4 linked regions of the Homo sapiens genome follow. The protein of the gene in region 2 interacts with the protein of the main gene of each other region in a pairwise test. Each region holds a gene or a part of one and is shown on either strand. Other genes may lie near its edges. The genes, in order: UBL3, RBFOX1, RBM47 and ATXN2.

What was found.
Region 1: the proteins of RBFOX1 (region 2) and UBL3 interact in binary tests that used the Homo sapiens proteins (3 or more experiments, as listed by UniProt).
Region 3: the proteins of RBFOX1 (region 2) and RBM47 interact in binary tests that used the Homo sapiens proteins (3 or more experiments, as listed by UniProt).
Region 4: the proteins of RBFOX1 (region 2) and ATXN2 interact in binary tests that used the Homo sapiens proteins (3 or more experiments, as listed by UniProt).

The regions. Positions count from the first base shown.
Region 1 is NC_000013.11:29,840,119-29,848,450, reverse strand, and holds part of UBL3 (ubiquitin-like protein 3), read left to right. Parts: intron 1-8,332.
Region 2 is NC_000016.10:6,013,806-6,022,910, forward strand, and holds the start of RBFOX1 (RNA binding protein fox-1 homolog 1), read left to right. Parts: upstream 1-5,218; 5' UTR 5,219-6,093; coding exon of another isoform or gene 6,094-6,096; 5' UTR 6,097-6,187; intron 6,188-9,105. UniProt on the Homo sapiens protein: RNA-binding protein that regulates alternative splicing events by binding to 5'-UGCAUGU-3' elements. Regulates alternative splicing of tissue-specific exons and of differentially spliced exons during erythropoiesis.
Region 3 is NC_000004.12:40,430,118-40,438,449, forward strand, and holds part of RBM47 (RNA-binding protein 47), read right to left. Parts: coding exon 7,654-8,332; intron 6,531-7,653; coding exon 6,324-6,530; intron 2,746-6,323; coding exon 2,534-2,745; intron 1-2,533. UniProt on the Homo sapiens protein: Single-stranded RNA-binding protein that functions in a variety of RNA processes, including alternative splicing, RNA stabilization, and RNA editing. Functions as an enzyme-substrate adapter for the cytidine deaminase APOBEC1.
Region 4 is NC_000012.12:111,451,326-111,457,259, reverse strand, and holds the end of ATXN2 (ataxin-2), read left to right. Parts: coding exon 1-46; intron 47-1,003; coding exon 1,004-1,231; intron 1,232-2,140; coding exon of another isoform or gene 2,141-2,215; intron 2,216-3,414; coding exon 3,415-3,583; intron 3,584-4,419; coding exon 4,420-4,448; 3' UTR 4,449-5,046; downstream 5,047-5,934. UniProt on the Homo sapiens protein: Involved in EGFR trafficking, acting as negative regulator of endocytic EGFR internalization at the plasma membrane.

The sequences.
Region 1 (8,332 bases), on a different chromosome or scaffold from region 2:
AGTTTTGCTCTTGTTGCCCAGGCTGGAGTGCAATGGCGCGATCTCGGCTCACTGCAACCTCTGCCTCCTGGGTTCAAGCGATTCTCCTGCCTCAGCCTCCCAAGTAACTGGGATTACAGGTGCCCACCACCACACCTGGCTAATTTTTTTTTTTTTTTTTTTTTTTTTTTGTGGAGACAGGGTTTCACCATGTTGGCCAGGCTGGTCTCAAACTCCTGACCTCAGATGATCCACCCATCTTGGCCTCCCAAAGTGCTGGGATTACAGGCGTGAGCCACTGCGCCCAGCCTGCTGATGATTAAATTTTAAAACGCCAGATGTTTCTAGAGGAGCAAACCTCATATACAGATTTTATAACAAAAATTAAATGATTCTAAATGGCTTATTTTGACCTTGGTTTAAAGGAATTTTGCTCTTGTTTAATTTCCCATTGAATGCAAAGGAAACACAGTGTTCTGTCTCTGGGGGTGGCCACATAACAGCTTTACAGTCTCCTTCCTGAGTCCTAAAACTCGTGCGTTGTCCTTTTAGTTTTCGCTTCTCTTCTGGTGTGCACACATGAAATAGCCTCCTGCCTGGTTAAGTACGGCTGGACAAGCTTTCCTCCATACTGCTCTTGAAGTTGCCGGGAGCGGTCTCTAGACAGAGCTGGGAAATGCTATTTCCCTTGTTTGATGAGTGATCTGTGGGTTCATCGCCTCGAGCAAAGATTTGCTCTCTCGAAAGCCTCCATTTTATATCATCAAGCACAGTGCAAAATAGGTTAACCTTAAGTACCGTCTATTCTCTCACAGACGTTGGAATGAAATAGATGTGTTATTAAAACAGTGCCGCTACTTCCTTTAGGTCCAGTGAAGAAAAGCTGGAATGTGCGTGGCATCAGTCACAGATTGAGATGATTTGGGAAATACTGTTTCCAAGTCAGAGAGAGGGTTTGGAGGCTGATGTTAGGATCAGAGGACTGGGAAGTAGGAGCAGGGTTTTATTAATATCTGCAATTATAAAATATAACAGTTTATCTGTTTGAGACTGGATGTTAAGGCCTTGATTCTGTGGTGCTTTGAGATCCTTTGATTAAAGGTGATATGCAAGGGCAAAGCAATATTATGTAATAAATATATAATGCCCTGATGATGCTATTTCAGAGTGGGTACTAACGTACAGCACAGGTTTGATTGTTCTGAGTATTTTTTTATGTCTTGTTTTCTACTGTTCAACTGGTTAGAGGTTAAGATTTTCTCTTTGTGAAAGTCTTTTAAACGTTCGTTTATTACTTAACTTTGCATTTTTGCTTAAGAAGTCTATCATTTGCTATGTGCCTAGAATTCTCAACTTTTTGAAATATAACATGACAAATACTGGTTAGAAGTTGTCGATTAAATGCTTCATGATTATTAAACTCTTAATACCATGAATTGACAATTGATTTTAGTTTACATTCATGACAACAATTTACCGCTCCAAACCTTGAAGAGCTCCTCTCACCACTCCCACAGCAAAGCTAATGACATATATCCCTTGCAGCATAACTCTAAATTGATCAGGATATGTACTGTTAAATACATTTTTGCTAGATGCAGTAAAATGTTAAGCTTTCTCCTAGTTGACAGTATGTGCTGTCAACTGTGCTGAAACAAATGTTACACTTTTTTACTTTTTGGTGGTGGTGTCATTTCTATTGAAGTCAATCTTTTATATGTTAATGGTGCTTGTCAGTTGTATAGGAAAATCCTGTTGGGGAGATGGGATGGAGTGGTGAAGTTAACCCCTATCATGTTTCCAATAGAGATAATTTATTCTCGAGCTACAATAATTGCTAAATCAATTGATGTTTTTGGTAAAGTCTTTTTATGGCCGTGATTATGACTCACTTTAAAATAGATTTTTTAGCTTTGGTTTTTGTTTTGTAGGTAGAACTCCCATTTAAAATTTATTTTTGAACATCCAGTAAATTTTTGTGTTTAGCATAAGGAGTCTCATTTTTAATGATCCAAATGTCAATTTTTTGGATGAGGGAGTGGCACCCGTAGTGAATGGATTTGCTGTACCCTTTAAAACATAATTTGTAGTTGGTACTTTTACTACATTCTGCAATATATATGTCCTATAAATATTACAAGTGTATTTACTTGAAATGTTGGTTTTTCTTTGCTAAGAGTGATTGAGTTTGAACTAGATTTAATAACATCTTAGTGTAGTAACTTATTTGTGAAAAAATCTGAAAATATCTCAACAGAATATCATTATAATATATTGTATTTAAATGATGTATTTATTTATTTATGTTGCAGCCAAGATCATAGTTCATGATGCGGCTATATTCATTGTTTATAGTTGCAGTGTGACTTATGTTAACCACTGTAGGTTTTTTGCAAGAAAATATTTACTGCCTGTGTTAGTAATAAGGCCTAAGACTGGGCAAGCAATGGTAATTTTGTTTTCTGGATTGGTAAAGTTATCAAGAAATACATTCTTGTTTTTATAAGAGTATTGTATACAACATTTAGGCTACTATTTAGAGCTTTGGACTAAAATTATACTTTATCTATTACATTGAAAACTTTAAGAGAGAAATTGACAGTGTGAGAATAATGGCAAAGCAATTTTGTGATTCAAAACATTTTAGTTGATAAAACGGTCAAAGAAAAGCCCCGTATCTTTAACAACTGTAATGTAAAAATTGTAGCAGATCAATTTGTAATAGGAGTTGAATCAGATAATGACAATTCAAGTTTTTTCCAGTATATTTTATGTGCTTAATGAATATTTTTATTGTAACTTTTGTTATATCACTTCCATTCATGTAAGAATTATTGGAGCCCTCTTGTGGACAGGAAATTACTAAAATACATTTCCTTTCAAAGTGAACTTTTATCACTTTTCCAAGTTAAAGTAAAATGACATATGTTGAATATACCAGGAGAAAATGCCATGAAAGGAAAAGGTCCAGAAAATAGAAAAGTATACTGAGATTTAATGCCCAGGGACTTTTTCCTCTTTAGTTACAGCTCCTTTTTATTTTTCTTTCTATTCCTGATGATTCTTATTTCAGGTTTAAGTTGGAGGGTTTTATAAAGCCAAAAGGTAGATAAGTACTGTTTACATATATGTGTGACTTGAATAGCTTAATAAATAATATATTAAGAATTGAATGTTTCTCTGAATTTTTACTTGAATGTCTCCTATTTGGTATTTTGAATTAGACATTTTTATTAAGAAAACAGATGACATTGTTTCCCACAGCTTTGAATTCCTTCTTTCTAGCTCTGAATCCTACCCCAGCTTGTGTCTAAAATGGTCTTTAGTTCATTTTAGGCCACAGTGATCTTTCCTTCTTGTAAACCATTTTTCTTTAGTGCTTTTGACATTCCTCTTACACAGGTATCAAATTTCTATGGATATAGTATCACTTTTATTTCACCTCTGATATTTTTTAGACATTCAGAAATTGTTGAGTGACTTTCTTGACTCACAAACTATTACTGTCTTCGTTACTTACAGAAAAAAATAAATATTGTTCCGTAGTAATAGTGGTGTTAAATATGAAGTCTATAATGTCTGCTTCTGTTATCACTTGGAATATGAAAAATATATATTTATAGTATTAAAACTTGAAGTTATTTTAAATTAGTGGATAAAATACTGATGGTGCTAATAGTTTTCACAATATAGAACATTAAATATGTTTTAGGAGACTGAAGCATATACTTAGTAAATGTGCTCTTTGATTTTCTAAGTCATCTTATTCTGGGAGGGAAAAATGAAGAGTGACTGTAGAATTCATGGTAACCTGGAAACCTTGGGTAATAAGTCATTCCGAACCAGTAAATTTTCTGAATACTTGGAGGTTGAGTGTTAAGATAGCCCAATCTAACAATGTTGGATTACCATTGCATTTGCTTAAATGAAATATACTATGCATAATTTAACTTATTTTTGATGACTTAGAGCTATGATTTGAATAATATTGCTTGCATTCAATCAGTGTTTATTGGGTACCTGTCTGTGTAATATGGTAGTAGTATTAACAGGCATAAGCTACAACTATAATACCCTCGGCACCTAATATAGATTGTGAAGCTTTATGCCCCTTCACTAGATCAGTAATTTACAAAATGAGGTGAAGCAAGTCAATTTTGAGAAGTAAATATGAGAACTTCTGTTTGTTTATTTTGTCCCCCAAAAGGGAAAAGAATTGAGCTTTTCTATTCATACTATGTGAATTGGCTGTGAGGTTCTCCTAGGTCCACCTGCATTCAGGTGGTCACTGAGAGTGTGGTTTGCTGAGGGAAGATGTGTGAATTCTAGAATGTAGATGCCAGCAACAGCACCATGAGTTTCTCAGAGTTTTTCCAGTTTTTCTGTTATATAGTCCCTTTAAAAATACTTTTTAAAAGAAGAATCTATGATACTTCTTATTGAGATGGGGAACAGAGGTTTGCTGTCAAAGCATTTAAGAGTTGTAGAACTCAAAGATTAATCACACATTTTTATTACAAAAGATGAGTATTCTATATGCTGTTCTTATCCGTGATGACAAGAGGCTACCAAAAATAAAAATCTAGCGGATGTGTTTGGGAAAAAATCCCCAAGTTGTCACTTCAAGGCAAAATCGACATTTTAAACAGTAAGTGAGAAAGTACCTGCTTTTCAAAAGAAACATGTTATGGAGAACATTTTGAAAGCATGTTGAAGTATTTACAGTCTGTTGAAAATCTTCCTTACAATGAATTTTAATTGACTTTGGACCATTTATTGGAAAGCCAAACATTTTAATTTGTAAACATTCTTATTGCAGTCAGGAAAAAGAAAATTTTAATAACATTGACATCAGGTAGCTGACTTTGAATAAAAATGTTTGCGTATTTGGTGATAGAATGAAAAAGTAATATGATTTAGTAAGTTAGTAAGTGACATGTTCTTCTATATAGATCTCATCTTTGTAAGATAAGTTTTTCAGGTATGACTTATGACAGCTCTTAAAACCAAGTGCAAAATACATTGAACTTCACAAAAGAAGAAACTAAGATTTAAAAAAATGGAGATATATTTAATAATAATGCTCACCTAATATGTTAATAGTAATAGCATTTTTAGTGATTGAAAGATTAAAACAAGTTAATATTTAAAATAGTTGATAGTTAAAATAGTAAAGTAAAAACAAAATTTTAATCTTTTAATTTCTGTTTTTAGTATATGTTTTATACTATGTGTATGTTTATAAATGAAAACACATATACTATAGGTATGTGCCTCAAGTATTTTATATTTGGGATCTTCAGTCAAAAAAATGTAGGAGCCACTGCACTAGATGACTAAAGATTTCTGAGCATTTTAACTTCTTGTGTTTGATAGTTAGAAGTTTTCTGTCTCCTGCCTTGTTGAGCAGCTGTTTTTTCCTGTGATCAGTGTGCCTACTTATTCCTAACCATTTACAGTTGCTGGTTTTAATTTGCTATGGGTGTGGAAACCATATTTCCAAAGTTTATTAAAAATAATATGTGTTTAAAATGAGCAAATGGTGTCTGAGTAGGATTTTAGGAGTTACCTCACAGTAAAGTGAGTATCTTTTGTTTCATGGACTTGATCATATCTGTTTTGGTTGCTTAGAATTCTCTTTTTAGGAGGGCTAATTTTCTGGCTGTTAGTTATGTTTTGCAGAGATGCAGTTTCTTGATAGTGAAGAACTGCTTAGGTGATAAAAAAATTACACATAACTTTACTTTGAGCTCGTAGAGGAGAGAGAACTAATATTTGTTGTGTACTTTCTAGTACCAGGCAGATGCTTGGCATTTTACATTATAGCATTTAATTTAATCCTTACAGTCACCCTGGATAAATATGGTTGGTATATAGATAAAGAAACTCTTAATACCCACCAGGTGAAGACCACCAGGAATGCATCTGTGGTGAAACAAGTTAGGTTGACTGTTTTGCAGCTAGGAAGAGCGTATGCCAGATCCTGCCAAGTGTCAGTAAAAGAGAATGGGAGGGCTGGGCACGGTGGCTCACACCTGTAATCCCAACATTTTGGGAGGCCGAGGTGGGTGGATCACTTGAGGTCAGGAGTTCGAGACCACCCTGACCAACATGGTGAAACCCCCATCTCTACTAAAAATACAAAAATTAGCTGGGCATTGTGGCAGGCGTCTGTAATCGCAGCTACTCCGGAGGCTGAGGCAGGAGAATCACTTGAACCCAGGAGGTGGAGGTTGCAGTGAGCAGAGGTTGCAGTGAGCTGAGATTGCGCCACTGCACTCCAGCCTGGGCGACAGAGTAAGACTCTGTCTCTAAAAAAAAAAAAAAAAAAAAAAAAGAAAGAGAATGGGAGGAGTTTTCAGTAGGGTTTGGGCTGTGCTGGAAGCAGGGACTCCTGGACTGAATGCTATCGTACATCAACTGGAGGTGGGTTAGTAATTGGGTCTTTCAGCAGTCTTTGTTTAGGAGACAGGATAAATGAAGGGGATTTGGAAAGTCATTGGTGAGAAAACATAATCACTTACAGAATGGGAGATTGTTGGTCATTTTGGAGCTGCAGTGTGGCCATAGGAAAAACTTTTTACCTGTTGGTCTTCTATCTTTCAGATATCACAGTCTGATTATCAACCGAGCTCATTTTTACTTTCTCACAGCCTAGGTTCAGAGAGGGTAAGGAACTTGTTTGAGATCACATAGCGAGGAAGAAGTTGAGCTAGAATAGGAGTTTGGGTCTGGTGGCAATAGTGATAAACATCTACACCCCTCCCCACAACGGTAACTGAGCAAACATTACTGAATCCCTCAGGCACATTATCCTAAGAATGCCTTAGATTCCTTCCCAATACCTTGCTCCAGGGAGTCCCTACTGATTGGTCTGAGCTAGCATGGTAGAAATGAAACCTACTTCATATATCTTTGTAATAAACTATGTAACATCTGGATTGGAATGATTTTAATTAAGGTTGGTTGTCTTACTAATTGGTAAAATTAAAGGGAGTTTCCTTTAAACTTGTTGGAACTTTGAGTCTTCTTATGTATATATTTGTTACACAGTGGATTTTTCTTAAAAAGTACTACTTTGAATGCTTTATATATATATGTAACAAATAGATTGACTTGTAAAGGATTTAGTGATTTCGGGGCATTTTGTTTTTGTCTCCATACTTTTAACTGCATATATATATGTAGAGAGAGAGAGAGAGAGAGAGAGATTCTCTATTGGTTGGTCAAATCTAGTAGCATTTTTGGTCTTAAGTAAATATATATTTGGGTAATTTTCTGACTAGATTTTGAGAAGAAAATGTTCTTTCTGCTGAAGAAAATTGTTGAAGTTTGACATTAACATTTTTGTTTATGTACTTAAGATGGCAATTTATTGTGTCTAGACAAAATGTTCTTATGATATATGTTTTTCTTTACTTTCATATAAAATTAGTGTTTTTCTTTGCCTTAGAAATAGTCTTGCTTTTGTATCCTGCTATTCTCATTGTCATGTTAAATCAAGTTTAGCCTAAAGCTGCCTCCTTACATATTTAAAGCTCAGCCTATATTATGAACATCTATCTATGCAAATAAGTATAGAACCGTATTATAATTTTGAACCGATTATGATAGATGTATATAAATTATTTAGCGAATTCCATATTCATGAGCATTTAGAAGCTATTACAAACAATGACATAATGGATATTCTTAAACATATCTCTGTGCCTTGTCTGATTATTCCCTTAGGACAAAACTCTTAGTAATGTAGTTGCTCTGTCAAAAAATATGTGTTAATTTTGGGATGGGTGGGAAAGAGAAGGATATATATTTCCTAATTTTAAAACATCCTTGAATTTCTGGATAAACCTAGCTTTTAATTTTACATTACTCAAATGGTATATGCTAGATAATACTTCATTGAGTTTTTTTTTGTTCATGAAAACAATTGGCTAGCAATTTTAATTTCTTGTAAAGTATTTGACAGATTTAGGTATCAAGGTTATGCTGACCTCATAAGATGAGTTGGGAAATGCTTTTTAATACTCTGGAAGAATTTGTGAAGATTGATTTTATTCCATCCACAAATGTTTGAAAGAATTCACTGGTGAAGCCCTCTGGAGTTTTCTTGTGAAGATTATTGATTGTATTTCGTCAGTACATAAAAAGCTATTCATATTTTCTATTTCTTTGTCAATTTTGACAAGTTTTGCTTTTCAAGAGATTTGTCCATTTTGTCTGAATTTTCCAGTTCAGCTTAAGGTTTTTGTGTGTGTGTGTGTATCCTTTTATAATTGTTTTGGTATTTGTAGTATCTATGATCTCTCCTTTTCAAAATCTGCTTATTGTAATTTGGGTCTCTTTGTACGCA
Region 2 (9,105 bases):
AATAGTGCCGCATGGATGAAGCTGGAAACCATCATTCTCAGCAAACTATGGCAAGGAAAAAAAAACAAACACCGCATGTTTTCACTCACAGGTGGGAATTGAACAATGAGAACACTTGGACACAGCAAGGGGAACATCACACACCGGGGCCTGTTGTGGGATGGGGGGAGGGGGGAGGGTTAGCATTAGGAGATACACCTAATGTTAAATGACGAGTTAATGGGTGCAGCACACCAACATGGTACATGTATGCATACGTAACAAACCTGCACGTTGTGCACATGTACCCTAAAACTTAAAGTATAATAAAAAAATTAAAAAATAAAAAGGAAATCATAATGGTACTTACACTGTGAGGACTAAATGAGATGATACAATCAAAGAGCTTATATAGTAAATACCACATGCTTGTTGCTTTTGTAGCTGTTTTTGTTATCATCATGACCATTGCTTAAGGTGCTGTCTTTGCTACCATTAGTATTTTCTCCATCTTATTAAGGGGATGAAGGCAGGAGAGGAAAAGGAATGAGCCCAAGTAGAAGAGGAAAAACTATCATGTTTACTATTTCAAAGACACATTGAAACAGAGTGCAAAAGTTGCTGTCTTTTCACAAAAAAGAGACCTCATCTGTGGACACCAGATAGCTCATTCTCAGTATTAAATGCCTTGGTTAATATCAAAACCCTGACCTACACGATAGATGGTGAGTGAGTTCAAGCAATCAATAACTATATATTGAGTATCTGCCATGTGCCCAAGGACTGAGGGGGGAACAGAGAATATAAGGTGCAATCCATTCCCCTGTGGTCCTCAGACTGACTGTTTTAATTAGTTCATTAGTTGACTCCGTTTGTGAGAAAGCCTTCAGGTAAGTCTGAAGACTGAGAACTTGTGGGCAAAGTAGGTCTTATATAATATTTAAATTGTGCAAATCATGTTATTGAACCCAGAGTCATTTATGGATACATTTGAGTATTGTATCAACTCTTCTGTGACTGCTATTGAAAGGTATCCTTGGGAGGAGGAATAAAAGGATGCTTGGCTACTTGATTTTTTTTTTTTTTTCTGAGACCAAGTCTCACTCTTTTGCCCAGGCTGGAGTACAGTGGTGTGGTTGCAGCTTTCTGTAGCCTCAAGCTCCCAGGCTTAAGCAATCCCCCCACCTCAGCCTCCCAAGTAGCTGAGACTACAGGTGCACACCACTACGCCTGGCTAATATTTTAAATTTCTTGTAGAGATGGGGTTTCACAGTGTTTCCCAGGCTGGTCTCAAACTCCTAGGCTCAAGCAGTCTGCCCACTTCAGCCTCCCAGACTGATGGGATTACAGGTATGAGCAAGAGCCACCACCCTCTGGCCTTCTTAGATTTTTAGATCTTAGATTTTTTTAGCTTGCTTTTTTCATCCTTTTCCTATTCTGTTTAATATATCACTGATAATCTCTTAAAAATCCTAGAGTACTCTGGAGTAATCTACAAATCCCTGGAATTCACTGGATGTTTACACTGACCTTCTGGAAAAGTTATTAAACAAATATAAGATAATAATGGAGAAAATGGTCATTGAAACATCAGTGAAGGCAGAGTGAAGCCCAGAGCACTGGCAGTGGAAATCATTATGGTAATGGTGCATCTTGAAAAGCTAACCAGTCACTCTCCACTGCCTGTGGTAAAGCAAATACGCCTTACAAATCATTTCAGAGCCTGCCTTGGGCCTTCCCTAGCCCATATCTTTAGTTCCAGCTTCTACTCTCTTGGCTCTTTCACCATTGTCCAGCCCCTTAACTTCAACAGGACTCTATTTATATTGAACAGATTTGCTGTTCCTAGAAGGAGCTATGCTGTTTTGCTTCAGGCACTTTCATAAGCTGTATTCTCCTTCGGGAATATCCATCACCCAACTCTCTGTGGAATTCCTATTTATCTTCTCTATTTAGACACGATCTTCTCTAGAATGCTTTGCCTGACCTTCTGCCCTTCTGCCATATCTGGCTATAGGCTCCTGCTCCGTATTGGCCAAATGTTTCAAGACAGTTGCAATCACTCATTTATGTGTCTGCATATGCTATTGGACTGTACGCTTCTCGAGTGCAGAAATTGAGTCTAGTTTATATACTAAATGGTTTACATGGGGGACTAGCCTCAAGAAGGATGCATGTTTGATGACTGAAAGAACAAAGGACTACATAAATGGATGAGCAGGTTGACTTCTCATTTCATTCCAAAGTGGTTAGCCCATTTAGACAGCAATCTACTGCAGGAAAGAAGGAAGGTTCACCTATCATTTATTGAGCTTATTATGTGGCTGGTGCTGTGCATCAGGGAACAAATCTTTGATGTAAAGACCTTTTAGTTTAATAGAAGAGAACAACATTTACAGTAAGCTGAGACAAATGACAGGGTAAAGGTAAATGGAGGTGTTAGAGGAGTTCGCAAGAACACCTTATCTGTGCCTATGGGGGGCTGGGTAGGGAGTTGAGGGATTGGCAGGGAGAAAGTGATATTGAAATGGAGATCTAAAAACTAAACAGAAGCTATCCAGGAAAAGAGAGTATGTAAGGGTATTCCTGGTTGGAGGAACAACATATACAAAAGATTGGATACAACAAGAGAAAAGCCCTCCTGGGTCACAGAGTGAACTTAAAAAGAGCCAGGAGCTGGTAAACCACATGGACAACTTTAGACCTTATCCTGGGGAATAATGAAGAGCTATAGGAAGATCCTAAGTTTTAAAGTAAGATGATGAAATTTACACTTTAGAGAGCTCTCAGCCAAGCACAAGGCTACAAAGTCCTTGTTCTTTTTAAACCAGCTTTATGAAAGGTACCATTTTTGACATTTGCTTAGATCACAAATTGGAAAGTATTTTTCATGTCCAGTAGGAGGAGCCAAAGTCTCCAGGTTCTTTCTAACCATAGCAGGGCGATTCTTGGCCCTAGGTTGTCCTGGGAGCTGTCAACTTCAGCACCTCTCATTTATCTTCCAGTGGCTCAACATGGAGAAATGACAGGAAAAACTCTACTTGGAATGCGAAAGGTCATTGTGAGAAAGAAACTAATACTTTCCAAATGAATAGCATAATGGCATGCCATATTGATCTTTACTCTAATTTTGTTTTAAATTGTAATGGATGCCTCTCACACTCATATTCTTAAGCCATGTAGCAATACAGGTACCAGTGAGTCATGCCTGACACTCATCACTAATCTATCTAAGCCTATTTCTACTCTACAATAAATAAATCAGAGCAGACTCAAGCTGAACTTGATTTTCAGATAGATGAATATGTTTTATTTCCAATGGTAAATATATATATGTATTAAAAATAATCAAAGGGCCCAGCAATTACCCATTTTAATGTAACAACAGCTGATGTTACTGCCTTGAATGATTGCATTCATTTGTTCCTTTCTGGAATAAAAAATGAAGGAGAATAGACAAACAATTCCTGTTGGTGAATTTGCACAAAACAGTATATTCCAACAGAATTTCCCGTTAACTGCCATTTATTTCTTCTATCATTATTGATAATTTGCTTTTAAATTGAGAATACCTCTTTTACAACCCATCTCATCTCCCTGCATGGCTAGACAATTACATTTAAATTCGGCGGTTTTCCCATTGTGAACAGTTTCTGGGGGAAATGATTATGATGTTACCAACCCAGATTTATGGTTTCATTTTGCTATCACTGAAGGATGAGACTAGTATAAAGAAAAAAAAATTGCTTACATACAAATATATTATTATCAAAGAGAATCCTAAGGAAACATATGGTAAAAATCAACCCAAATTGCAAAATCGCTGGGACCAATGATAAAGATATCTTTCTGGATTTTGCAAACTTACTTTTTCAAATGATGATTAAATATTGCGTGCTTTAAAAAGTAATATAGTTATAGGCAGAAGTTCCCTTTCTTTTATTCTGAGGTTGAAAGAAACCGCAGCCCGATAGGATTGCAAGAGGAACCCTTAAGGAATCTGCTCCTTGATGGGCGCTAGGAAATACACGTACATCTAGTACAAAGGAATGCACATCACATGGCCCCCTGTTTTGGAAAGCTTACAGCATTTCTTATAAGAGGATCCATGGTATAAGTGCAAACACAGTCACATCACAGGATGGGAAAATGAACAGGCGCCTCAGATCAAGTGCTCAAGGCTGGAATCTGGCCTTGTCCAATGCCACCTGCCCTTCAGAAGGCAGGGTGGTGCCACATAAAATGAGGTAGACTGCCTGGGGAGTCCTGGTTCCTTGCCAGCTATGTGACCTTGAACAAATTACAACTCACTGAACCTCAGACTGACTTTATTGTACAACAAAACCCCCTGGAATATTTGTGGAAAAAAGAGGAAGGGAGAAAGGAAGGAAGGGAGGAAAGGAGGAAGGAAGAAAGGGAGGGAGGAAGGAAGGGAGGGAGGGAAAGGAAAAGGTAGGGGAAGAGCAGAGTTTCTCACTCCAGTCCAGAGTGGGACCCAGGAAGGGAGAAATATTGCTTTAATCTCTCTAAGCATCTGTGAAATGGATAAACCTCCAGTATCTACTTCCAGTTGTTGAAAAGACTCCATGTAAAGTGCTTAAAACAGCATCTGGTGGAAAGTAAATGCTTATTAAGTGCTAGTGTGTATTAAGGCGTCATGGGGCTTCTGGCTGTAAGACATCTGCTAGGAGGACAATCCCTAGACCCCTTCAGCGTCCATTGCGGGAGTAGGTGGCCAGGAAGGGGGCAGGACAGGAGAGGCCCAGCTGTGCGGGGTGGGGGCGTCCCAGGCCAGCCGCACCCACCCCAGCCCTGCATCCCATCCAGCCTGGAGAACTTTTTGAATCTTGGATAGGGCTCGATCTCTGCCTGGCCGGAAGATTTGAAGACTTGCCAGAAAACTTCCTCAGAGAAGAAATGGACTGGGGCAAGAAGCTGCCTCCACTTGGCGTCTCTAGTGGGGGATTTGTCTACTTTGATTGGGGTTGGGAGGAGGGCGCTGGTGCTCAATGAGTGAGCCCACCTGGGGACTACCAGGACGAGGACGGGCGCAGGTGAAAGTCCTGGGCTCATTGCCCCAGCATCCAACTTTCACCCTCTGTCCCCTTTAGGCCAGGAGACCAGGGTACCGGGTCGCGTGTCCGCCGCCGCCGCCCGCTGGAATCCAGGGCTGCACGCGTGACCGCGGCGGCGGCGGCGCTGGCGAGGGGAAGGGGGAGGGGGCGCTCCCTCGCGCACCAGATTATTTTTGGCTCCGCAGCCGGGGCTGCTCGCTGCTTGTCGCGCGCTCACACACACACAGACACACACGCACACACACACATGCACACATTTTCTCGCGCTCTCTCCGGCTCTCCTTTGTTTATTTTCTAATCTATATTTTTACTGGAAGATTTCCTCTTTATTCTCTCCCGCCCTCCTACAAGCGCTCTTGCTGGCCGTCTGGGTGCACACACCGCTCCCTCGATCACCCCAGCCCCCTTCCTGGTCTCCCGAGCGCGGGGTTTGAAGGTCACCTCCTTTCCAGTCCCCGTGCGAGCCGCGCTGCCGCCGCCTCCTCCAGCCAGAGTCGGTGGGACTGGCTGCGCTGCCCTGAAGTGGTTCTCCAAGCAGCGCGGAGGGTGGCGGACGGCGGACGGAGCCCAGGGGCCGCGTCGGGTGGGGAAACCCGAACTCGCGGAGGGGAATCCCTCCCCCTCCGCCCCAGCCCCCCAGCAGCACCCGCGGTGGGGCGGGGGCGCTCTGCCAGCCCCGGGAACAGCAGAGGCGGCGGCACTGGCTGGACCCACGCGCGCGCCTCCGGGGCTGAAGAAGGAAGGAGTGAGCCGAGCCGAGCACCCCACATCTGGAGGGGACAGCCAGCCGTGGGCCCCGCCCCGGCGTCCGGAGCAGGAGAACTCCGAGCTTCTTGCCCAGGCAGAGAGAGCAGGAGCGGACCGCGCGCCCGGGATTGAGAGTCCTTGCGCTCCAGACCCCCACCCAGTGGCCGCCAGGGTCCCCGCCTGTCCGGACCCTCGCCGCGCCCAGGCAGGCGCGCCAGGGCGGGGCTGACCTGCCCGCGAAGTTGCGGACAGTGCGTGAGAAACCAGCACCCCCTTCCGCCGCCTCCAGCTTATGGTGAGTGTGGCTGGGGGTGCAGAGAGCGCACGGGAATTCGGGGGTCTGGGGCCGAGAACGTGACCGCAGCCGGGCTCGCCGGGAGTTCTAGGTAAGTCCAGGCGGAGTCATTGCCTCTGCACCCACCCTGACCTGGTGGGTCAGGTCCAGAAGGTCTCATGGAGGGAAGCGCTAGGTCCCCGAGAACTGGCCTCCTCCTAGCGCCAGTCTGGGCGCTCTGGACGGGAACTTTTTCAGGGTGTGTGGAAAGATCTCGAGGCGTGTCCCCCCCTACCCCCAGGAGGCCGAGACCCTGAGCCCCCTTGTGCGTCGCTTCCAGAAGCACGTCCTTCCTTGCCCCAGAGCGCCCCTCCGAAGCATCCAGGCTACCTCGTCCGTCCTCCTGGGAGCGAGTCCTAGGTGCCAGGAGCAGCGGGAGCCTGCCTGCGCACTTTGATTAGTCTCCCTGGCCGGCTGCAAGCGTGCACTCAGCGCGCCCCCGGACCGCTGCCTCCGCCCGCAGGGTGTGCAGGAGGAGGCATCTTAGTGACCCGGGAGGGTGTTTAGGTGCCCCGAACCCCTTGTGGGAGGAGGGGAAGAGAAGGCTCACTTATGTGGAGAAAGCGCCGCTGTGTTTACTGGCACTGGAATCGATGCCCCGCGGTGCCACCTCGACCCCAGGGGAGGGGGCCAGCCGGGAAACCTGCGAATGGGAAACTCCTACTGTGCCCCTGGTTCCTGGGAGCCTTAGAGAACCTTCACCCCAGAGAAGGAAACACAGGGGTAGCAGATCTTAGCCCTGTGTTGTTGTGCAGGCCAGGGGGGGGCTTGTCAGCTCCAATCAACCAATTGTCCAGCTATGGAAGCGAGGGCGGGGCTAGTGGGGCGCCGCTCCCATCTCCCCACCGCCCAGGAGGCCACTTGGCTGTGAGCTCCTGGAGCCTCCCTGGCGCCAGCTGCGGGGACCAGGTGTCACGCGGAGCCCGGAAGCTGTCCACTCAGCAAGGGAGGGGAAGACCCCGATCTAACCTTGTCCTGGAGCCCCCAGCTCCATTCCTTGCTGCCAGGGAATGGTCAGGGGGCTGGGAGAGCTCATCGCTCCTGTGTGGGCCAGAGCTGGGGTGCACCTGCTGGCACTGGAACATCTGGGGTGCGGCTACTGAAGAGCTTGGAAATCCTGGTCAGGCAGTCCGGGCAATTGGCACCCCAAAGGCGGATCTTTTCAGTTGAACTTGAAAAGAAGTGGGGGAGTGTGGTGAAATAGCTTTGTTGAGTTGAAACATCATGTCTCCTAACTTGGGTTTTCCTTTATTAGAATAATGATTGTTTATTTTTATTTTTAAACTCCGTTGTGCAGAGAGGCCTGGCCTTGACAGCCCAAGTTTAGGACATGCCCCAGCCTGCCATCCCTTCCCTGCCCCCTGTCCTAGTTCATCTCCCCTCCATTTATCATTTTATCTTTGTTACAAAAGAGAGAAAAAAAAGATGAGAGGGCCTGGATTCTTTCAATTTTTAAGTGACCACAGAGGCCCCGGCTGGAGCTACTGGCAGATTTATTTTTAGCTAAGATCTTTTATGTTCAGAAGCAAAGGACCTGGGGCCTGTGAAGGGTAAAGGTGGTGCTGGCAGTGGCTGTGCTGGTAAAAAGTGGGGCTGACTCAAAACCTGTGTCCTCTTTGAGCTCGTCAGGGAGGCCCTCCGTTTGGAAGAATCCCCTGGGCTTTCCTTAAGTTAGCTTATGGTTGCCTCGGGTTAGGAAGAAAAGTCATCATTCCTCGCGGTAGTGGAAGTGACACCTTAGGGGTCCAGAGAGTGGAGCTTTATGGCTCAGAAGAGCACAGGGCTTCTGGATCCGTTATCTGCCAGCTGTGTGACCTTGGGCAAGTTGCTTTACCTCTCTGAGCTTCGGGTTGTCACCTGTAAAATCAGAGTTTCAGTCGTAGTTCTGTCCTCAGAGGGTTTGGGGGTAAATTACTTAAAGCACTAAACATTTAGAACAGTTTGGCACATGGTAAGTGCCTGAATTCTATGAGTTTTGTTTCTTTATTCTTTCAAGTAGATTCCTCTAATTTTTGAGCCTTGTAGCACCGAGTGGTACAGGAAAGGCAGGTGGCTTGCCTTATACACACACGTTTTCTTTTAAGTAAGGAACAGAAGCCTCAAGCTCTCCCATTCTGCTCTCTGCATGTTCCAAGGAGGATCACGGACAAGCTGCCCACCCACTGGCCAAGATATAGGTTGGTGGCATTTGACTTGCTGTCTTGACAAGCACCTGAAATTAAGTTTTTGCAGCAGTTGTACATTTCTTCTGACCCACTGAAAGGACTTGATCTCCTTGGCCCCCTGGGATGAAAGTATTACCTTAGCAAATCTGTTTTTTTTTTTTTAATTAGAACATCATTTATTTAATACATAGAATATTTTGAAAACACAAGAATCGAAGAATATTAGAAGTGGCTTTATCATTCCTCCTGGGATTCACACATTGCAATTAGTATGTTTAGATATAAAATTTTGTGGCCAGGTGCAGTGGCTCATGCCTGTAATCCCATCACTCTGGGAGGCTGAGGTGGGCGTATTGCTTGAGTCCAGGAGTTCAAGACCAGCCTGGACAACTTAGCAAAACCCTGTCTGTACTAAAAATACAAACAATTAGATGGGTGTGGTGGTGCACACATGTAATCCCAGCTACCCTGGAGGCTGAAGTGGGAGAATCACCTGAGCCTGAGAAGGTTGAGGCTGCAGTGAGCCGATATCACGCCACTGCACTCCAGCCTGGGTGACCAGAATGAGACCCTGCCTCAAAAACAAAACAAAACAAACAAACAAACAAAAAACAATTTGTGATAGTATCTAAACAATTTGTGATAGTATTTAATTGTATAAACATATAAACATCTGTGGCACACATTTGCCCATAAATGAACTGAATGCACAAATACCTTGATCCAGTTTTTAGAAAGAATTTTAGTTTTGTTGTGGCAAGAACACAACATGGGCTGTACCCTGTGAAAAGATTTCTAAGTATAT
Region 3 (8,332 bases), on a different chromosome or scaffold from region 2:
CTGGGAGGCGGAGGTTGCAGTAAGCCGAGATCACGCCACTACACTCCAGCCTGGGCGACAGAGCGAGACACCGTCGCAAAAAACAAACAAACAAACAAACAAACAAACAAACAAAAAAAGACAAAAACAAACAAAAAAAAAACCCTGATGGCAACAGCCAGTGCGGACTGATAGGAGACAGAAATAGTCAGGACATGATTATGGTGCCTGGAATTTGGACCTGACCAGAACTCACAGTGCACATGAAAGACAAGTGTTCATGAATTTCTTACTAAAGGAGAATTAGAAATTATTATCAGAATTCCACTAAGTACTGCTGCTACGCTATAGTAAATATTTACCGTCAGTCCACAAGTATTATAACTATACTTAGTTGTTATTCTACAGTGTCATTTACAACCAATTCCTCTTTTTGTCTTTCAGAGATCCCAAGTTAAAGAATACTTAATGACATACTGAAAGATAAATAAGCTTCAATTAGTCTGCCCTTTCTGAATAATGCAGTCAAGACTAGTGTTCAGAGTGGGCAAAAGCAAGTAAACAGCATCCTACTGTGGAGGGTCACAGGCCTGGCTCTGTTTCAGAATCATTGAGGAGCTGTGCAAAATATCAATTCTAGGACTCCAGCCCAGTTTGACCGAATTGGAATCTTCAGGGATTAGAGTCTAAGAATCTCTGTTTTTTAAAAAATGTAGGCAACGGCTCATGCCTGTAATCCCAGCACTTGGGGAGCTTGAGGTGGGAGGATCGCTTGAGCCCAGGAGTTCAATACCAGCTTGGGCAACATAGCAAGACTTTGTCCCTACAAATAAAAAAGTTAGCCGGGCATGGTGGTGCGTGTTTGTGGTCCCAACTACTTGGGAGGCTGAGGTGGGAGGATTGCTTGAACCAGGGAGGTTGAGGTTGCAGTGAGCCATGCACTCCAGCCTGGGTGACAGAGTGAGACTGTCTCAAAAAAATCAAAAATCAAAAATCAAAAAAAGTGGCCTGGATAATTCTTTTTCAATTGGATAAGGGATCCTGGGCCTGAGTACTTGTGATCGGTATTCATGATTCACTGCCTCACAGAAAACAGCTTTAACAAGATTTTCTTCTGTTAAATGGATGTCCTCCCTATGTCCTATAAGGTGAAGATACAAAGAAACAGGACACAGTCTTTGGTCTGTAGGAGCTTCATTTTCCTTGGGAGATAGAACACACTGGCAGCCATAGGCCAAGTAATGATGTAGTAATCAGGAGTACAAGAGAGAAAATTTCATGGCCGGGCGCGGTGGCTCACGCCTGTAATCCCAGCACTTTGGGAGGCCAAGGTGGGCGGATCACGAGGTCAGGAGATTGAGACTATCCTGGCTGACACGGTGAAACCCCGTCTCTACTAAAAATACAAAAAATTAGCCGGGCATGGTGGCGTGCGCCTGTAGTCCCAGCTACTCGGGAGGCTGAGGCAGGAGAATGGCGTGAACCTGGGAGGCGGAGCTTGCAGTGAGCCGAGATGGCGCCACTGCGCTCCAGCCTGGGCGACAGAGCGAGACTCCGTCTAAAAAAAAAAAAAAAAGAGAGAGAAAATTTATCTAGGAGGTGGATGGGAAAGATTCTATGGAAGAGATGAGAATAAAGAAACCAGGATACACTATGAAAAAGGTGGGGAAGGAGGCCAACATGGTAAGATGAGTTTGGGAAGAGATAGGGGAACAGTGGGAGATATGGTTGGAAGAGAGGATTATGGGCATATTTTGTAAATTTATTTTTGAGACAGGGTCTCACTCTGTTGCCCAGGCTGGAGTGCAGTAGTGCAATCACAGATCACTGCAGCCTTGACCTCAAGGCTGGTCAAGTGGTCCTCCTGCCTCAGCCTCCCCAGTAGCTGGGACTACAGGCATATGCCACCATGCCAGGCTAATTTAAAAAAAAAAAATTGTAGAGACAGTGTCTCACCATGTTGCCCAGGCTGGTCCTGAACTCCTGGCCTCAAGTGATCCTCCCATCTTGGCCTCCCTATGTGCTGGGATTACAGGCATGAGCCACTGTACCCAGCACAAAATTTTACGTATCTATACAGATGTTCTTTCTCTCTCTCTCTCTCTTTACACACACACACACACACACACACACACACACACACACACGGGGGTTAACATTTTTTTAAAAAATCTTCATTGAGCTGCAGTTTGAAATGTGAAAATGTGAAATCACTCCCTGGACTTTGTGTGTCAGCTCTTTAACAATATGAGCTAAAAATTATCCAGTGCTATTTTAAAAAAATATATGCACAATATTATGACACTGTGAAAAATTACACATAATTTTTGCATATTGATTACCACCCTTAATACAATGATATTATTAGGGTAGTACAATTAATTAAAAATTTTTTTTTCTGTCATGCTTCAAATTCAAAATGCTTTGTGTCACCCAACCATAGCTGTAACAGAGAGCCAGGCACACAGTAAATTCTCAGTGCTGAATACTAAATGAATCCATGTTAAAGAGAGGCTTCACACACAAATGACAATGCCTGCAATAAGAACTCTACCTGGAAAGGTGGTGGCGTCGACACAGTGGGAATGACAGCGGCTGCGGCGGCTGCGGCCGCGGCTGCGGCGGCAGCAGCACTGGCTGGGTCTGGCTGCACAGCAATGGGGCTGATCATGTGCTCCACTGTGTGGATTTTGCCATCTTCAATCATTTTAGGGGCTGGAGCTGCTGGAAACATGGAATACTGAGCCCCAATGGCAGGGATGGCTACTGCAAGAGAAGCAAGAAGGAAAAACAGGTCAATCACTTTCAGTCGCTGAGTGGGGTCCAGCACTTGCTCTAAGATATTTTTTATTTTTATTTTTTTAAAAACTTTTCTTTTTTTTGAGACAGGGTCTCACTCTGTGGCCCAGGCTGGAATGCAGTGGTGCGATCAAGGCTCACTGCAGCCTCAATCTCTTGGCCTCAAGAGATCCTCCCACCTCAGCCTCCTGAGTAGCTGGGACTACAGGTACAGGCCACCTTGCCCAGCTTTTTGTTTTTGCTGTTGTAGAGACAGGGTTTCGCCACGTTGCCCAGGCTGGTCTTGAACTCCTGAGCTCAAGCGATCCAACTGCCTTGGCCTCCCAAAGTGCTGGGATTACAGGTGTGAGCCACCGCGCCCAGCCTAAGATATTTTTTAAAACCACGTTTAGAGGTCCTGGGCCTCTCCATGCTCACTATTGTTCTCTCAGTACAAGCCATGTACCCAGATGCCTGCTCCCTAGAGGAAGGGATGGGTGGTGGCAGGTAACTCCCCCTGCCTGTTGTGGAAGAGACCCCTAGAGTAAGGCTTTTGCACCAATATTTTCTACTATTTCTACAGAAAAATCACAGTTTGAATGTTATTCTTGATGTCCTACTGAGCAAGAAAGGGCCTCTGACTATGGGAAAACAGGCTTAGACGAAGAAGTGAGATCAGAGGCTTGAAGCCTACTGCCTGTGAGAGTTGGGCCTGCCTGTTCCTTCCTACTCACCTCACTCATTACCAGCCGCACTGCCTTTTTTTCACTTTCACCACTATTTAAGAAACAGGTGCTGTTGAGGGTTTCATTCTGAGAACTCAGACCTGTGTACATCCTCCCCACCCTGTATTTCAGATTTCAACATTACCGATTCAAGGAAAAACACATGGTAAAAAAAAATAGCACATTCCCCAGTTTCCTCATGCCCACGCAAAGTAGTGAAGATGTGGAGTGATTGGCTTTTAGTGGGACCTCCCAATTCAAAGAATTTCTGCAAGTAAAGTCCAAAATTATGATTTCAACCAGAGATTCAAACAGCAGCTATTGAATGTCAAGGTACAGTAAGAAGAGATCAAAAGGAAAAGATATCAGCCCTTTTGTGTGAGTGTGTGTGTGTGGGGCGGGGGTGTGTGTGTGTGTGTGTGTGTGTGTGTGTGTGTGTGTTGAAAGGACAAACAAAAATATGAAATGTGTACACAAAGAATCTTTCTATTTCTGGTTTTCTCCAACTGTAGGTACATTTATTCTAAATAGGACAGACTCAATCAAAGGTAAAGAGACAAATGATTGTAAGCTAAACAATGGTACAGCCATTCGATAAAATATACCTAAAACCTTAATCAAATCTTTTACCTGCCTTTCCAACCATATCTTCCACTGGTCTTGTGCCCAGATACTTCACCACCACCCTGGTGCCTCTCCTAAAATACAATGTTCTCATTTTCTGGATGATCAGAAATAGACGCCAATCGATGGGGCCCAGAGAGGGTTGTGAGTTTAAGCTACAAGGGGTTGTATGAAGTAAATGAATTGTTCTGGCTATCAGCCCACAGGAATTTCTACCTCAGGCTCCAGGACACAACTTTACATAGTTAAAGATTATTTAACAGTTCTTTTCTCTTGTTAAACCTTAAGCTACCGTAACTTGCCAAAGGGAGTTCCCTTCTCAACAAGTAGAAGCGACGACTCCCATATCCAGGCTCTATTTTATTAAGTTACAGAGCTGTGGGATCAGTTTTACTTTGCCCACAGTGCCAATGACATTTAAAAGGCAATCTAGTCTAAGGAGTCACTTAACTGCAGAAATTGCAGAATTTTTACACAGGCAAAAAAAAAAAAAAAAAAAAAAAAATCATTACTAGAATCATCAAAAGAAAGTTCAATTGGGGAAATGCTTTTTAACTCTATGAGGCCAATGTGTACCTATGTCCCAAATGCACAGATTCCTTGACTCTATTTTAGCTAGGGAGAGAAGTGTACAATCTCAACCAGAAGAAAATCAGAGTAGCTGGGCTCCAAACAGTTCTTCAACTTCCTCCTGCTGAAGCCAGGAGGGGTCTGGAGGAGGGTCGTGCCAATTACCCACGGACTGAGCTTTCCATGTGTTTGGATGCTTCTGCAGGGTGCTACGTGAGTTTGTGATAGACTCACACAATGGAGTTAATGTTTTTTGCAGGTTCGGATCAGAAGACCGGCCTCACATTAGATGGTCATGGGCACTAATGACATTAATAAACAGGTTTGTAGGGCCTGGAGGTGAAGGCTAAGTTCAGGGTCCCTGGCTTGAAATACTTGAGCATCCCTACTCCCAATCTACTGATCCAACTAGAGGAGGAAATGAGTGCTGGAAATGAGAAACCAGGGAATTAGCTGCAAAAATTTTCAGCAAAGGCCAGGTGCAGTGGCTCATGCCTGTAATCCCAGCACTTTGGGAGGCTCAGGCGGGTGGCTCACTTGAGGTCAGGAGTTCGAGAACAGCCTGGGCAATGTGGTGAAACCCCATCTCTACTAAATATACAAAAATTAGCCAGGCATGGTGGTGCGCGCCTGTAGTTCCAGCTACTCGGGAGGTTGAGGCAGGAGAATCGCTTAACCCGGGAGGTGGAGGTTGCAGTGTGCCGAGATCATGCCACTGCACTCCAGCCCGGGTGACACAGCAAGACTCCATCTCAAACAACAACAAAACTTTCACCACTGCCTTGTCCTCAAGCATTCTTATTTGCTCAGACCATGACAAGGGACAAAAGGTGCTGCTTACTCCTGAAGGGGAATTTTCTGCCCTTCCAAACAACTCTCAGAATGGGGCAATAAGCTCTACCCTCCGACTTCAGATGGTCGGGGCAGAAATAGGCCTGAGTAAGGAAAAGACAGGTTTTACCTGATAGAAGATACAGAGAGCCTCATGTTCTTCCTTTCTTCCCCCTACAACTCTCCTTACTTAGCCACAGACTGAGACAAAACCTAACAATGGGTGACAGCCCTTTGAAAACCTTACTGCATGGCCAGGCGCAGTGGCTCACTCCTCTAATCCCAGCACTTTGGGAGGCCGAGACGGGTGGATCATAAGGTCAGGAGATCGAGACCATCCTGGCTAACACGGTGAAACCCCATCTCTACTAAAAATACAAAAAAAAAAAAAAAAAAAATTAGCCGGGCATGGTGGTGGGCACCTGTAGTCCCAGCTATTCTGGAGGCTGAGATAGGAGAATGGTGTGCACCCAGGAGGCAGAGCTTGCAGTGAGCCAAGATCATGCCACTGCACTCCAGCCTGGGCGACAGAGCGAGACTCTGTCTCAAAAAAAAAAAAAAACAAACAAACAAACAAACAAAAAAAAACCTTACTCAGGCAAGTTTGATTTGAACATAGTCAAAGCTACACCATCCCCTGAAGTTCTAGATAAGGAGGTCCAGGGGGTCACTTTATTTTTGCCTTGTCTCTAGCTGCCTAGGAGAAGAGGAACCCCTGTGCAGATGTGAGAGCCTGAAAAACGCTTGGATTCACTTCAAACAGAAGGGCTGGGGTTTATGCTGAATGGGAGCATTCTCAATCTGCTTCATACTGACCTGTACCAGGTTTAATGGCAACTGGGTTGACGGTAGGGATTTCCAAATTCGGCACCAGTTCATATCCTTTTTCTTGCTGCTTTCCTTTCCCTTCATGATATCGGCTATATATACCACGACCAGCAGAATATCCCCCGAGGTAGGAACCCCTAGGCCCTGGGGCTCTGTTGCCAGCTGCACCTCGCCCTCGGCCTCTTATGCTGCCTGCTTGTAATAACAACACAAAAGATGATCAGCAACCAACAGTGACGGTGCTGGAGGCAGACCTCAGCCCTCGGTTCTCGGCATTTAACTGCCCCAGTCTTAATTGCAGGTGGCTACACCTTTGCTCTTTAATAGGCTGGTAAAGATGCTTCCAACATTCTATTTCAGCCTAGATTTGCATCCTAAGCATGTCTTCTTAGTACAAGAGGCAAACTTGCAGGGTGAGTTTCTAGGATTGTATCTGCAATTTCAGTAAAGAAAAACATTCATAGACTACCCACCACCCCCTCCCCCCCGCCAAAAAAAAAACTGTGGCCAGGTGTGGTGTCTTATGCCTGTAATCCCAGCACTTTGGGAGGCTGAGGCGAGAGGATGGCTTGAGCCCAGGGGTTCAAGACCAGCCTGGGGAGCATGGTGAGACCCTGTCTCAAAAAAAAAAAAAAAAAATATATATATATATATATATAAAATACATATATATATATATAAAATACATATATATATATAAAATACATATATATATATATAATACATATATATATACTATTAAATAATTTTTTTTAAAGTTAGCTTTGGAAGGGGATTTGCTGGTCCACCTTCCTCATTTCATGCTTGAGAAAACAGGCCAGGGGAGATTAAAGTGACTAACTAAAGTCACAGACCCAGTTAATCAGAGAACAGGACCCAGAACCTATGTATCTTATTTTCCAGGTTATGCTGGGTGTCATTATATCCTAATCAGTGATAACAAAAAACAAAATTAAAAATCACGGACTCCACCAACATCTTAAGATTTAATATCACAAGCAGGTTTTAACGTAAGCACCAAGAGAATGGTGGACTAGCCCCTAACCCGGTGGACCTCGGCAAGGAAGAATTCCAGCACTTGCATATTCCTGTGATTTTACCGCTCACCCCAGAACGATCTGTATTTCTATCAGTGCTGCATAAGTGACGGCCTTCGGTGCCAGGAAAGAATTAGACCCAGAATGCAAACCCAAAACGGGGGTGGGAGGGCCTTCAGCACCTACCAGCTCAGCAAATGCCAGCCACGGTATCCCTGGTGCCCCCTGCCTAGGAGGCAACGTTCTTGGGGGCCCCACCCAGGAGAAGAGCCCCCACTAACCTTTCACAAAGTAGTCCCTGTTGGGCCCAATGAGCGCGTTGTAGGGGTAGCCGTAGTAGGCCAGTGTGTAGGGGTCGCAGGAGTACACGTAGCTGGGCTGCTGCGCTGCCTCAGCCGCGCCGCCGCCCCTGGCTGCCTTCTGGTAGCGCGAGTACTGCTCCTTGTCCACGGGCTTGGCCAGCGTGACCTCCAGGCACGAGCCCTCCAGCTCAGTGCCGTTGAGGTTGTTCATGGCATGCACGGCATCCTCGCGGCTGGTGAAGTGCACGAAGGCGTAGTCGCGGATCTTCTTGACGCGCTCCACGCAGCCGGGGTTGAACTGGCCGAAGCTCTTCTTGATGGTGTCCTCGGTGGTCTCGATCATGAGGTTGCGCACGTAGAGGATCTTCACGGTCTCCATCACGTCCTCGTCCACGTCGATCTCAGGTTCGGCCCAGTCCACGGCGATCTGGTGGCCCCACAGCTGGATGCGGCCAGGCATGAGCTTGCGGCGAGCCATGGCAGCCGCGCGGTGGCTCTCGTACTCCACGAAGGCGAAGCCGCGGTTCTTCATCTTGTCGGCCGCGCTGGCGTAGACGATCACGTCCAGCACGCCCTCGGTGACCTTGGCAATCTCCTCCAGGATTTCCTCGCGCTTCTTCATCTTGGGGATCCCGCCGATGAAGAGGCGGCAGTTGTC
Region 4 (5,934 bases), on a different chromosome or scaffold from region 2:
GCAAAGCCAACATGGTGGAAGTCATCCTGCACCCAGTCCTGTTCAGGTAAGGGCAACTCAGAGGTCTGCATGGAGTGGCTTCTTTATCCTAGTATCTGAGTGCTTTCTTCAGGTGCCAGGTATCGCATCGTCAGAACACATGGCATGTCCACCCTCGTGAAGATGGATACAGCTGTGCCCCTGGGGTGGTGGTTTTAAGAATCACATTTAAAGGCTGGGCGCAGTGGCTCACGCCTGTAATCCCACCACTTTGGGAGGCCGAGGCGGGTGGATCACGAGGTCAGGAGATTGAGACCATCCTGGCGAACACTGTGAAACTCCGTCTCTAATAAAAATACAAAAAAATTAGCCGGGCGTGGTGGTGGGCGCCTGTAGTCCCAGCTTCTCGGGAGGCTGAGGAAGGAGAATGGCGTGAACCCGGGAGGCGGAGCTTGCAGTGAGCAGAGATCGCGCCACTGCACTCCAGCTTGGACAACAGCGAGACTCTGTCTCAAAAAAATAAAAAATTAAAAAAAATCACATTTAAGATACATGTTGATAATAAGGTGATTGGATAAGCTCTGGAAACTTGCAGTAATGAAAAATCAAATTTAACATAAAGTTCATAAGGCAAATTCCTATTTGCTTGGGACTTTTTAATTTCTAAGGTTTATGTGATGAGGTTATTTTCCTATGAGCTTCTTGAATTATGTTTGCTAATGGAGGCAGTTAAAGATGTCTTTGATATCTATCAGTTCCCTGGGGCAGTAGTCTTTTTTGACTTTAGTATGTATGCTCAGAAGTTTCTAACTGCCAGACTGAGAATCAGGCTTCTGTACCCTAGAAAGGAGTTGTCCAGATGGGAGGCACCTCCAGCCTTGCTCTTACCACCCTGTACATTCTCCTGTACTTTCCAGTGACCCTCATCATAGGCCCAAGTGTGCAAAGCTTAGCTTTGTGGGTATCCCTTGGCTGCTTTTCATTAAAGAAGTTTTCCTCTCAATTCTTTCCTGTCGCTTTGCAGCACCATCAGCACCAGGCCGCCCAGGCTCTCCATCTGGCCAGTCCACAGCAGCAGTCAGCCATTTACCACGCGGGGCTTGCGCCAACTCCACCCTCCATGACACCTGCCTCCAACACGCAGTCGCCACAGAATAGTTTCCCAGCAGCACAACAGACTGTCTTTACGATCCATCCTTCTCACGTTCAGCCGGCGTATACCAACCCACCCCACATGGCCCACGTACCTCAGGTAATACCAGCTTTAGCCAACTTTCTGTGAAGGCCAAGTAGAATGTGAAGGTTATCAGTAAGCAGCTAGAGGCTCTCCCAGCTAGGAAACCCTGTGTGTCATGCCATTTGCCTGTCTCCCTTTCCCTCTCAAATACACGTGATCTGGCCCTAAGGGAATGTTTGTGTGGTTTTGTCATGGGATCAGTGAAGGTGCTGATTGGTCAGTCCTTTAGTTTTCCAACTGAGACCTTAAAAATATCTTTGACTCTGGAATGCAACCCAGTCCTTCTTTCCTTTCTGTGTCTGCTTTGCTATGTCTATATAGCCTCACTACTATATATATGTGTACATATATATTCCCCTACACACTTACCTTGGAAGCCAGGCAGGGATGATGGCCTTCACAGAGTCTCAGCTCTCCGAAGTGACTACCGGGGCCTGTCAACTTGATTGTTACTCACATGAGTTCCAGACACATCTCTCCAATTGTTTTCCCTGGTTATCCATATATCTGCTTTGACCATAAGTTGTACTCTTGAGAGGGCTTGGCCTTGGACATTGGTGCAGTGTAACTAGAAGCTGGAAGCACCCAGGTGGTCCCATTTTTCTTTAAGAGCAGCCCTGGAAGCACTTTGGAGCTCACCTCCAGTGTAAGCTGCTACAGGTGAAAGGTGTGCTTGCCATCTCAGTGGTTGCTGTCTGCATCAGCTGCTGACAAAGGTCCCTGCACTCCAGGGCCCAGGGGATTGTCTTAATGAGGAGAAGGAGCTGCACTGAAGTTGGGCTCTAACGCTGGCCTTGAGGCCCTCCCTGGGGCTGTTACGGGTGAATTGGCTGTATTAGATGTCTCTGCTACTTTCATAACAGAACTCTCTGAGGCGGGTCTAAGTGAGACCTGCCACAATGAATTCCATTTCCTGTTAAATAGTGCGCCAGTGAGGCTCTGGCAAGGTGTGGGCTAGAGATGCGACTCAGTTGGATCTATCTCTCAGAAGGCTACCTTGTAAGTAGAGTTCCACAGCTCTGGGAAGTTTGGGCGTCCTCACCCTGCAAAGTTTAGGTTCTGTGGTGTAGCGCACTGCAGTTGATTTGCTTTTTGATAGTGGGGAGGGAAGCCGGTTTGGTCCGTGTGGGCCAGCGTGGTTTGGTGGAGTCAGCTTCATAAGAGCTGGGGTCCTGTAGGTGTCTACCAGAGGCTGGTGGCTAAGTAGGCATGTGAACTTACATGTAAGTCAGGGATCCCTAAAACCTCACTCTGTTTTTGTGCTGAAAGGGCAAAAAGGTTAACACAGGGAAGCTCAAATTTGCCATGTGCCCGTTTGAATATGTGAGAGTAAAAACGGCATTTCATCCAAGGCTTATCGTAGTCTAGAACAGTGCACAGTGTGGGAAAAAGGAAACAAGGGCTCTTCCTGGCCCTGCCAACCCCCTGCAGAGCTGGAATCCAGCTGTTTGGGCTGACTAAAATCACCTTTCCAACTTGACAGTGAGTGAGACCAGGTTGAACTTGGTACAGAGACGCTGGGCTGGCCCAGATGACTTCAGGTTACTCCTTTCCATCTCACTGGAGCCATTAAAAACTCCAACTCCTCCTCCTCCTCCTGCTCCATCAGCATATCTCTGAGAGAGTCACGGGGGCCTAAGAGTCTCTTTTCACTGCCTGGTGAGCAGACCAGAAGCAGAGGGAGAGAGGCAAATGAACAGAGGTCCAAGTAATTCACATACTTGACTGTGACAGTCTCTGCTTATTAATGTAATCTGTTTTCCTATTTGAAAGGGATGTTATCTGCAAAACTACCTCAGGCCCCACATGGCAGCCTGATTCTGAAGCATCATTGAATCTTGTATGATATTAAGTTGAGAAAGCTGCCCTTGGATCCAGTGTCTAATCTTTGTGAAGATCTTACCCCATACATAGAATACAATGATCAGAAATGTCAAGGGTTAGGACAGCACAGCCCTGACTTCTACCCAGGCTCACTTGTTGCCTGCTCCCTGACCCTTGCAGGATCTGCCCAAAGGTGAAGCGCGTCTTCAGGTCAATAGATAATCTACTAGAGATTGTCCCCAGAGAACAGAACTGGGCCCTGAGGCCCACCGTTGCCCTTTCCTGAGAGTCCCAGCCCAGTGAAAGGAACACAGTTGACATGTTGTTGAAGCCGGAGATGTTGCCTGTATGCGTAAAAGAGCTCTCTGTTTCAGGCTCATGTACAGTCAGGAATGGTTCCTTCTCATCCAACTGCCCATGCGCCAATGATGCTAATGACGACACAGCCACCCGGCGGTCCCCAGGCCGCCCTCGCTCAAAGTGCACTACAGCCCATTCCAGTCTCGACAACAGCGCATTTCCCCTATATGACGCACCCTTCAGGTGAGGCGTGTGTGTGCAGGGGCCGCCGGGGCACCCCAAAGCATTCTGCTCGCACAGGTGGAATGGCAGGCAGGGCCAGTGCTTCAAGCCCCGCATTTGAGAACTAGCAAGACCCGTCCAGGAGTGTGCACAGGAGGGACTGTGACGATCAGTTCAGCATCAGGGCCTGAGGCTTCCGGGAGCCGAGTCTGTGTGTGTTCTGATGGTATACAGGATTTGGCTTGATGAGAAGCAGCAGCAGCAGCAACAGCAGCCTGATGCATGCCTAGGACTCAGTTGGCCTTCCTTGTTATGACAGGCTGGACAGGGCAGTGTTTTCCTTCCTGAGTCCCAAAAGTCTGACATGTGGGGGGTTATTACCATGGCAGAGTTTGATTGTAGCTCTGGAGAAGATACTGCTGAGAAAGCGCTGTGGATGGACTGGCTTTGAGTGTAGCGTTAGCCCCAGCCCCTGAACAGGGGAGAGCGCCCTGTGATTGTGCTCTACTACTTGATGGCTGCCATGGCGATACTTCACAGTCTGACCTGTTATTCTGAAAGCAATACTGGTGCTTGGCTAATATTTGGGGAGGGGGTTTGTTAAGGCCTTTTTTTCTACCCCATGAACAAGTCTTCTGGGAGTTTTATCTGAAGTGGTTTTACGTCTGACTGGTTTGTTTCTACCCACCCACCCAACCCTCCCCACTTTGGTGCAGATGGGAGGGGGAAAAGCGAATTCAATTTTGAGTTTTGTTCAGCTAGCACGAGGATAGTTTACAATCATGTGCTGCAGAGACACTAGGCTGATGTGTGGTGTTGCCAGTTTTCTGTTTCAATGTTCGCTTTTCTTTTTACAGTACAAGCCCACCACCAACAGCAGTTGTAAGGCTGCCCTGGAGGAACCGAAAGGCCAAATTCCCTCCTCCCTTCTACTGCTTCTACCAACTGGAAGCACAGAAAACTAGAATTTCATTTATTTTGTTTTTAAAATATATATGTTGATTTCTTGTAACATCCAATAGGAATGCTAACAGTTCACTTGCAGTGGAAGATACTTGGACCGAGTAGAGGCATTTAGGAACTTGGGGGCTATTCCATAATTCCATATGCTGTTTCAGAGTCCCGCAGGTACCCCAGCTCTGCTTGCCGAAACTGGAAGTTATTTATTTTTTAATAACCCTTGAAAGTCATGAACACATCAGCTAGCAAAAGAAGTAACAAGAGTGATTCTTGCTGCTATTACTGCTAAAAAAAAAAAAAAAAAAAAATCAAGACTTGGAACGCCCTTTTACTAAACTTGACAAAGTTTCAGTAAATTCTTACCGTCAAACTGACGGATTATTATTTATAAATCAAGTTTGATGAGGTGATCACTGTCTACAGTGGTTCAACTTTTAAGTTAAGGGAAAAACTTTTACTTTGTAGATAATATAAAATAAAAACTTAAAAAAAATTTAAAAAATAAAAAAAGTTTTAAAAACTGATCAAGTTAGTGTGTGTCTGTATAAGCTACTTCTTTGTAGGATACTTAATATCAAAGCAGGTGTGCTAAGGGTGCATTTTGAATATCCCGGAAGGTAGCTGTGAAATGATTTTTCTTCTTCACCCTTAGTTCTGGTTCAAGGTATCTCTAGAAAAAGACAAGACTGAGCTATTCTCTTTGGTGGATTAGAGATCTGCTTCAGGAGGAGGAAGGTTGGCCAGAGTTGGGCAGCACTGAAATTCCACATCCTCGGGCTGACACCGATTCTGTAAGCTTCCTTTTTAATATCTCCTGAACCAAAATGAGTGTCATTAGCTGGAAGTTCCCAATTCGGGCATTTTTCTACTTTACCAGTAGGGGGCAGGAGACACTCAGAAAAAAATTGCAATAAAGAAATCCAGAGGGCATGAAGGCTGAAAAGATACAAAGATGTACAAAGCTGCTTATTGACATGGATGGACTCATAAGCATTTGTTAGTATTCCCAGATTGCAACGGGGAGGACAAAGGGAAGAGCGAGTATTTGGGCAGGGCAAGGATTTTGTAGAGACACCATGGTCTTAATAGAGCCTTTAAATATTATGACAGCAAATCAAGATTCTGAAAACTTTTTAATTCACATATAGCAATTTGTACATTATAGCAAAATTTGCATTATTCAAGAATAAGTTACTTGTACAGTACATAAAACAATACATAAAAATTTGCCAAATACCTTCTGCCTATAATGATACAAGATGAATCCACTTTATGTTATCACAATGTGCTGTATATTCTAACCAAACACAGGATGTCAGATGTGTCCTTGTTAATATACTCGCAAGTTCCTCTAGCTTGTGGGAGATGTTAGAGCTAACACATTTGCAGTAAGGGACTTAGTCCTGAATAGA